Regions from separate parts of the Homo sapiens genome. Here region 1 is linked to region 2. Evidence: fine-mapped expression QTL. Tissue or cell type: whole blood. Region 2 holds a variant in brackets; the other region holds the start of a gene. All regions are shown on one strand. Distances are from middle to middle.

Region 1 (2,768 bases), 87 kb before region 2:
TCATAATTATGATCATGTAAGCTAAAAAATTCGAGTGCAGACATAAAAGTTTTCACCTGAGATATTCACTTTATGTAAATACCACTCATCAGTTATAGCCAGAAGGTATTTGCTTCCATCCAGTTTGGGTGTAAGCGTAGAGTTAAGTCTATAATTATTTATTTGATGCCAAGTAGAAATACGACAATATACAAGGTTCAAATGTGGGAGAAGTTACAAGCAAGTCCTTGGAGAGTCAGTGAGATGTTTATGAAGAAAGAGTCATATACTGAACTTCAAAAACGAGTTGGACCTTGCACACTCAATTTTCCCTTAGCTATAACGTTTATACAAAAAGTTTTTGTGTAAACGTTATAGCTACTAAAAATCAGAACAAGTTCAATTATCACCAACTCAAAGCTGGATTAGACCTTTTCAATGATTATTAAGCTACACATCCATATTTAACAGCTAGTCTTTAGAGGAAGGGACCATCTCATTCTATTAACAGTGAGTATTGAGTAAGGCCTTCAGATGCCTAACTGCATATATTTGAATACATTTTTAAAATTTCTTAACACATATCGCTAAGGTTACTTTGTTTATATGACATTATGAGTACGGGACAACAAAACTCTTAAGCCGTTAAACAGAAAGCCAAATCAAGCTGCATCTATGACATGCCTGTTTAGTGAAACTTTACTTCAGTCCATAAAAATACAATTTATTAAAAGCACAAAACTAGTGGCTAGCTTCAAGTTAACATTTTTGTTGCTAGTGGTGAGATTTCCTCTAATGTTAAATGATTTTTTTTAAAAAAATACGTTTTAAGTCCAGACAAAATTAATTTTCAAAAATGAAAATTGTAATCTATCCACAAATGTAAGTTTTACCGTTTTGTTTTTTGCAAAAAAAAGTACCTTTTATCTTTCCTTATATTTGAGGAAACAAGCTTATCTTTGAAGAAGTAGCTGCTGAATTTGCAAGATCTTTTGAGTACTTCTAACTACACGCTTTATTACTACACAGTTAAATATTTAAACAACAGTTGTCTCCTTTGTCTAAAGACCCACAAAGACCGAGAAGGTACTTACCTTCTTGAGATGACCAAATCCAAACCTAGAACTCCTCCAGAGGTACAGCCTTGGTGGGAGATTCTGAAGACGCCAGTCTGGCTTCTATCCCTAGCCGCAGGAACCTGCATCTTTTACTTAGTCCAGAAAGGCTTAGTATATTAGTAACCCAAAGATAGTGAGGGCATTTAAACTGTGTATTTCATTCTCTACTCACGTTTGCATTTTGGTTTTTTGTTTGTTTGTTTGTTTGTTTTAAAGAGGTTGGGCCTCACTACCTGGAGACACTGTCCCACCAGTTTGGCCGCCGCGCCAAGCCGGTGGCTCAGCCCGCTGTCATCCAGGTTCTCACGACTCCTCCCATTGCTTGACAGCCAGCCAATAGCGTGCTAGGACTCTAGGACGCGCGATGGCGTAAGCTCCAACGCCCGCGTGATGACGCAAGAGGCGCCACCGTCTCCAAGGAGTGGTCCGGGGCACCGGTTTCAAAGTCGCAGGGCGGGCCGAGTGGACTTCCGCTGCTGGCCTGGGGCTTCCCAGCCGTCTTGGCGTTGTCCTCTCCAACCCCCGCCGCTCCGCGTAGAACGCCGCTCTCAGGCTGCCGTCAAGCTCCCGCGGCACTCTCCTAGGTGGCCCGACGAGACCCAGAGTGACCCGCGGGACGCCTGTATCGACCGCGTCCTCTTCCCACCAGCGTGGGATTCGGTTGAACGTGGAGTCCCCAGCAATCTTCAGTCTCTCACCAGGGCCAGGGACTCGTCTGGGGCGCGGGGGAAAGAAGCGTGGCGGGGCTGTAGATGCCGCGTGAGTAGGATGCAGATTGCACCGCTGGAGCGCTTGACAACCAACCGAGCGTTGGCTTAGTTTTGTTTTCCCGCACAGCAAGCTCTCTGTCTTTCAGAGGAAGGTAAAGGTGGTGAAAGCTCTAAACTAAAATTGTATCGAAATGGCTGCAGAAATCGACTTTCTGAGAGAGCAAAGTAAGCTCCATGTTTTTTTGAGACTTCATATACAATGTTTAATATCGTCGTCGTTGACCGACAAATCTTTTTTGAATGCTGGTTGGGTACATTTAAATTGGTAAAGAGTTAAAGAAGTTAGTTGCAGGAAAAAAAAAACCTTGATGTTATACGTGAGGATGTGTGTATATTTAAGCAGAACCGTGTGGTAGTACTTGTAGCTTACACAGAATTCTACTAGACGCTAAACATGTTTGTTATGCTCCTCTCGTGCTCTGAAGATTAGAAGGCTAATGGCCAGCAGGAGTTTCCAAGTGTGCATTTAAAATCTAGGGGCACAGCTCTCTGGCCATTTATTAAAAAGATGTTTATTGAACTCCTGTTTCTATTATGTACCAGACACTATGGAAGAACAGCTGCTGCAAAGATAAACAGGACAGTTTTTACCTCCAAGAATTTAATTTGGGGAGGGAAATGTATTCCAAAATATATTGAAGTGACAGCAACTGCTGGCTCTTTTGCCACAGTCTCATAGGGTTGTTGGAAAGATTAAATGAATATTAAAATATGTAAAGGATTTAGAATAGTATCTGATACATTGTGTTAAACAAATATTAACTATTACACGATTATTATTAAAATATGTTCAAGGAAGGTGCTATTGGGCTGAAACGTGCAGTACAAATATGAATTTACTATATGAAAAACTCTAGGCATCCCAAATAGAACAATATTTGTGACACTGAGGGGATTAGGA
Region 2 (2,768 bases):
CTAACGAGTATAAACTTTTAAAAATAATAATAATGGCTTTAAAATGTTTGAGGAGACTTGAAATATGAGCCAGCAATACCGTACATTTAGGAAGAGTGTAAATGGAGTTGAGATAGTCTCAGGTGCTTACATTATCCATTAGAAATAGGATACTAATTTATAGTAGAGGGTGGCAATTCTCAGAGGCATGTTACGATGTCTGGGCTGAGCACTACAGTAAACTAAAAGATTCTATCACTTCCAAGCTCATGGAGCAGGAAAGTGGAATAATAAAATGTAATTAATTCCAGTTAATAAGAAAGAATAGGAACAAAAAGAGAGGTGTTTTGTTTTGTTTTTTTAAAGTCAAGACATATAGGAAATACTAAGGTAGTAGATATAAACCCAGATGCCTTAGTAATTGCATTAAATTTTGCTGTACTACATGCTATAATTTTAAGAGTGATTTACCAGAGATTAACTAAATGAACCCACAATTACATGCTTTTAACCAAGGAGATTCGTAAAATACAAGAGTACAGAATGGGTGAAAATAAAAGGATAGAAAATATGTATACCATGGAAGTGCTAACTGAAAACATGCTGGTAATATCAGACATAGTAGAATTTAATGTGAAACAGATGATTACAGATTAAAAGGCGGTTTCCATAATGATACGAAATTATATTTGCCCAAAAGATATGACAGTTCTGAATGTGTAAGCACTCAATAACAAAGACTCAGAATACAAAAATGTGATAGCACTGAATGGCAGAACAGACAAATGCACCATTATAATAGGAAATATGAGCAGGTTGCTCTCAGTAAATAAAATAGCAACCAGAAAAAAAAACAGTAAGTTAAGATGCAATATTTGAATAATGCAATTAAGAAATCTCTTAAGGGACATATATAGAATACTAATACCGAAGACCTTCAAAATATGCATTCTCTAAGTACACGTGATAGTTTTCTGAAATTGACCAACTCAAAAAAAAAGCAACTCTCAGATTATAAAAGGATTGAAATTATTCAGATTATGTTCTTTGATGACAGTGAAAATTATGCTAGAAATCAATAATAAAAAGGTAACTAGAAAATCCTCAGCTTTTTCTAAGTTAAGCAGTATGCCTCTAAATGTTACTCACAGGTCAAAGAACTCACAATGGAAGTTAGAAAATATTTTCAACTGATTAATAAAGAAAATAACATAACGTCGGCGTTGCCACTAAGGCGATTCTTAGAGGGAAAGCTGTAATCTTAAGAGTATGTATTAGAAAAGAAAGTCTAAAAATAATGATGTCTTAGAATTTGTTGAAGAGGTTAGAAAAAGAACAGCAATCTAAACCCAAAATCATATAACACCTCGGGAACAGAGCACACTCGGTGAGAGACAGCAAGCATTAGAAACGCAAGATTGGACATCTATTCCCCAAGTATGCCAGATACTGAAGCAAACAAAATTAAACTATGTATAGGTAGTCCTTCCTTTGTATGAAGTGTAAGATTAAAAAAATGACCTTGCAAGCTGAAACTGTACAAAATTATCTTAATAATCAATGGGGGACAATTACGATATTTCTGTGACCTTTAAATTTTTTTTTTTTTTTTTTGAGACAGAGTCTTGCTCTGTCGCCCAGGCTGGAGTACAGTGGCTTGATCTTGACTCACTGCAACCTCCGCCTCCTGGGTTCAAGCAATTCTTCTGCCTCAGCCTCCTGAGTAGCTGGGACTACAGGCACACGCCACCATGCC[C/T]GGCTAATTTTTGTATTTTTAGTAGAGACGGGGTTTCACCACATTGGCCAGGCTGGTCTCGAACTCCTGACCTCGTGATCCACCCACTTCGGCCTACCAAAATGCTGGGATTACAGGTGTGAGCCACCGAACCTGGCTAAAAATTTTAAGACCCTAAAAACTGTCTTACTGTCAGTTATAATTATACTGCTTGTTATAACTACATTTTTTTATTAAATGAATTTTTTTTATTATACTTTAAGTTTTAGGGTACATGTGCACAATGTGCAGGTTAGTTACATATGTATACCTGTGCCATGCTGGTGTGCTGCACCCATTAACTTGTCATTTAGCATTAGGTATATCTCCTAATGCTATCCCTCCCCCCTCCCCCCACCCCACAACAGTCCCCAGAGTGTGATGTTCCCCTTCCTGTGTCCATGTGTTCTCATTGTTCAGTTCCCATCTGTGAGTGAGAATATGCGGTGTTTGGTTTTTTGTCCTTGCGATAGTTTACTGAGAGTGATGATTTCCAATTTCATCCATGTCCCTACAAAGGACATGAACTCATCATTTTTTATGGCTGCATAGTATTCCATGGTGTATATGTGCCACATTTTCTTAATCCAGTCTATCATTGTTGGACATTTGGGTTGGTTCCAAGTCTTTGCTATTGTGAATAATGCCGCAATAAACATACGTGTGCATGTGTCTTTATAGCAGCATGATTTATAGTCCTTTGGGTATATACCCAGTAATGCAATGGCTGGGTCAAATGGTATTTCTAGTTCTAGATCCCTGAGGAATTGCCACACTGACTTCCACAATAGTTGAACTAGTTTACAGTCCCACCAACAGTGTAAAGGTGTTCCTATTTCTCCACATCCTCTCCAGCACCTGTTGTTTCCTGGCTTTTTAATGATTGCCATTCTAACTGGTGTGAGATGATATCTCATTGTGGTTTTGATTTGCATTTCTCTGATGGCCAGTGATGATGAGCATTTTTTCATGTGTCTTTTGGCTGCGTAACAAAGAAATAAGACACTTTAATTCT

Evidence for each region. PIP is the estimated chance that this variant, and not a neighbour inherited with it, causes the effect.
Region 1: SCLT1 starts here. The variant in region 2 is fine-mapped to the expression of SCLT1 in whole blood (TOPMed, PIP 0.90).

Annotation. Positions count from the first base shown.
Region 1 is chr4:129,092,334-129,095,101 of GRCh38, reverse strand. It overlaps SCLT1 (sodium channel and clathrin linker 1), which reads left to right and starts at 1,563. Exons shown (of 21, transcript NM_144643.4): 1 at 1,563-2,032. The coding sequence starts at 1,999. It also overlaps a transcript of C4orf33 not described here. RefSeq lists an enhancer at 1,299-1,868.
Region 2 is chr4:129,005,363-129,008,130 of GRCh38, reverse strand. All of the region lies in intron 5 of SCLT1 (sodium channel and clathrin linker 1), which reads left to right. Among named protein-coding and RNA genes, the nearest start is that of SCLT1, 87 kb to the left of the region's middle. The variant C/T (reference allele first, on the strand shown) is at 1,736.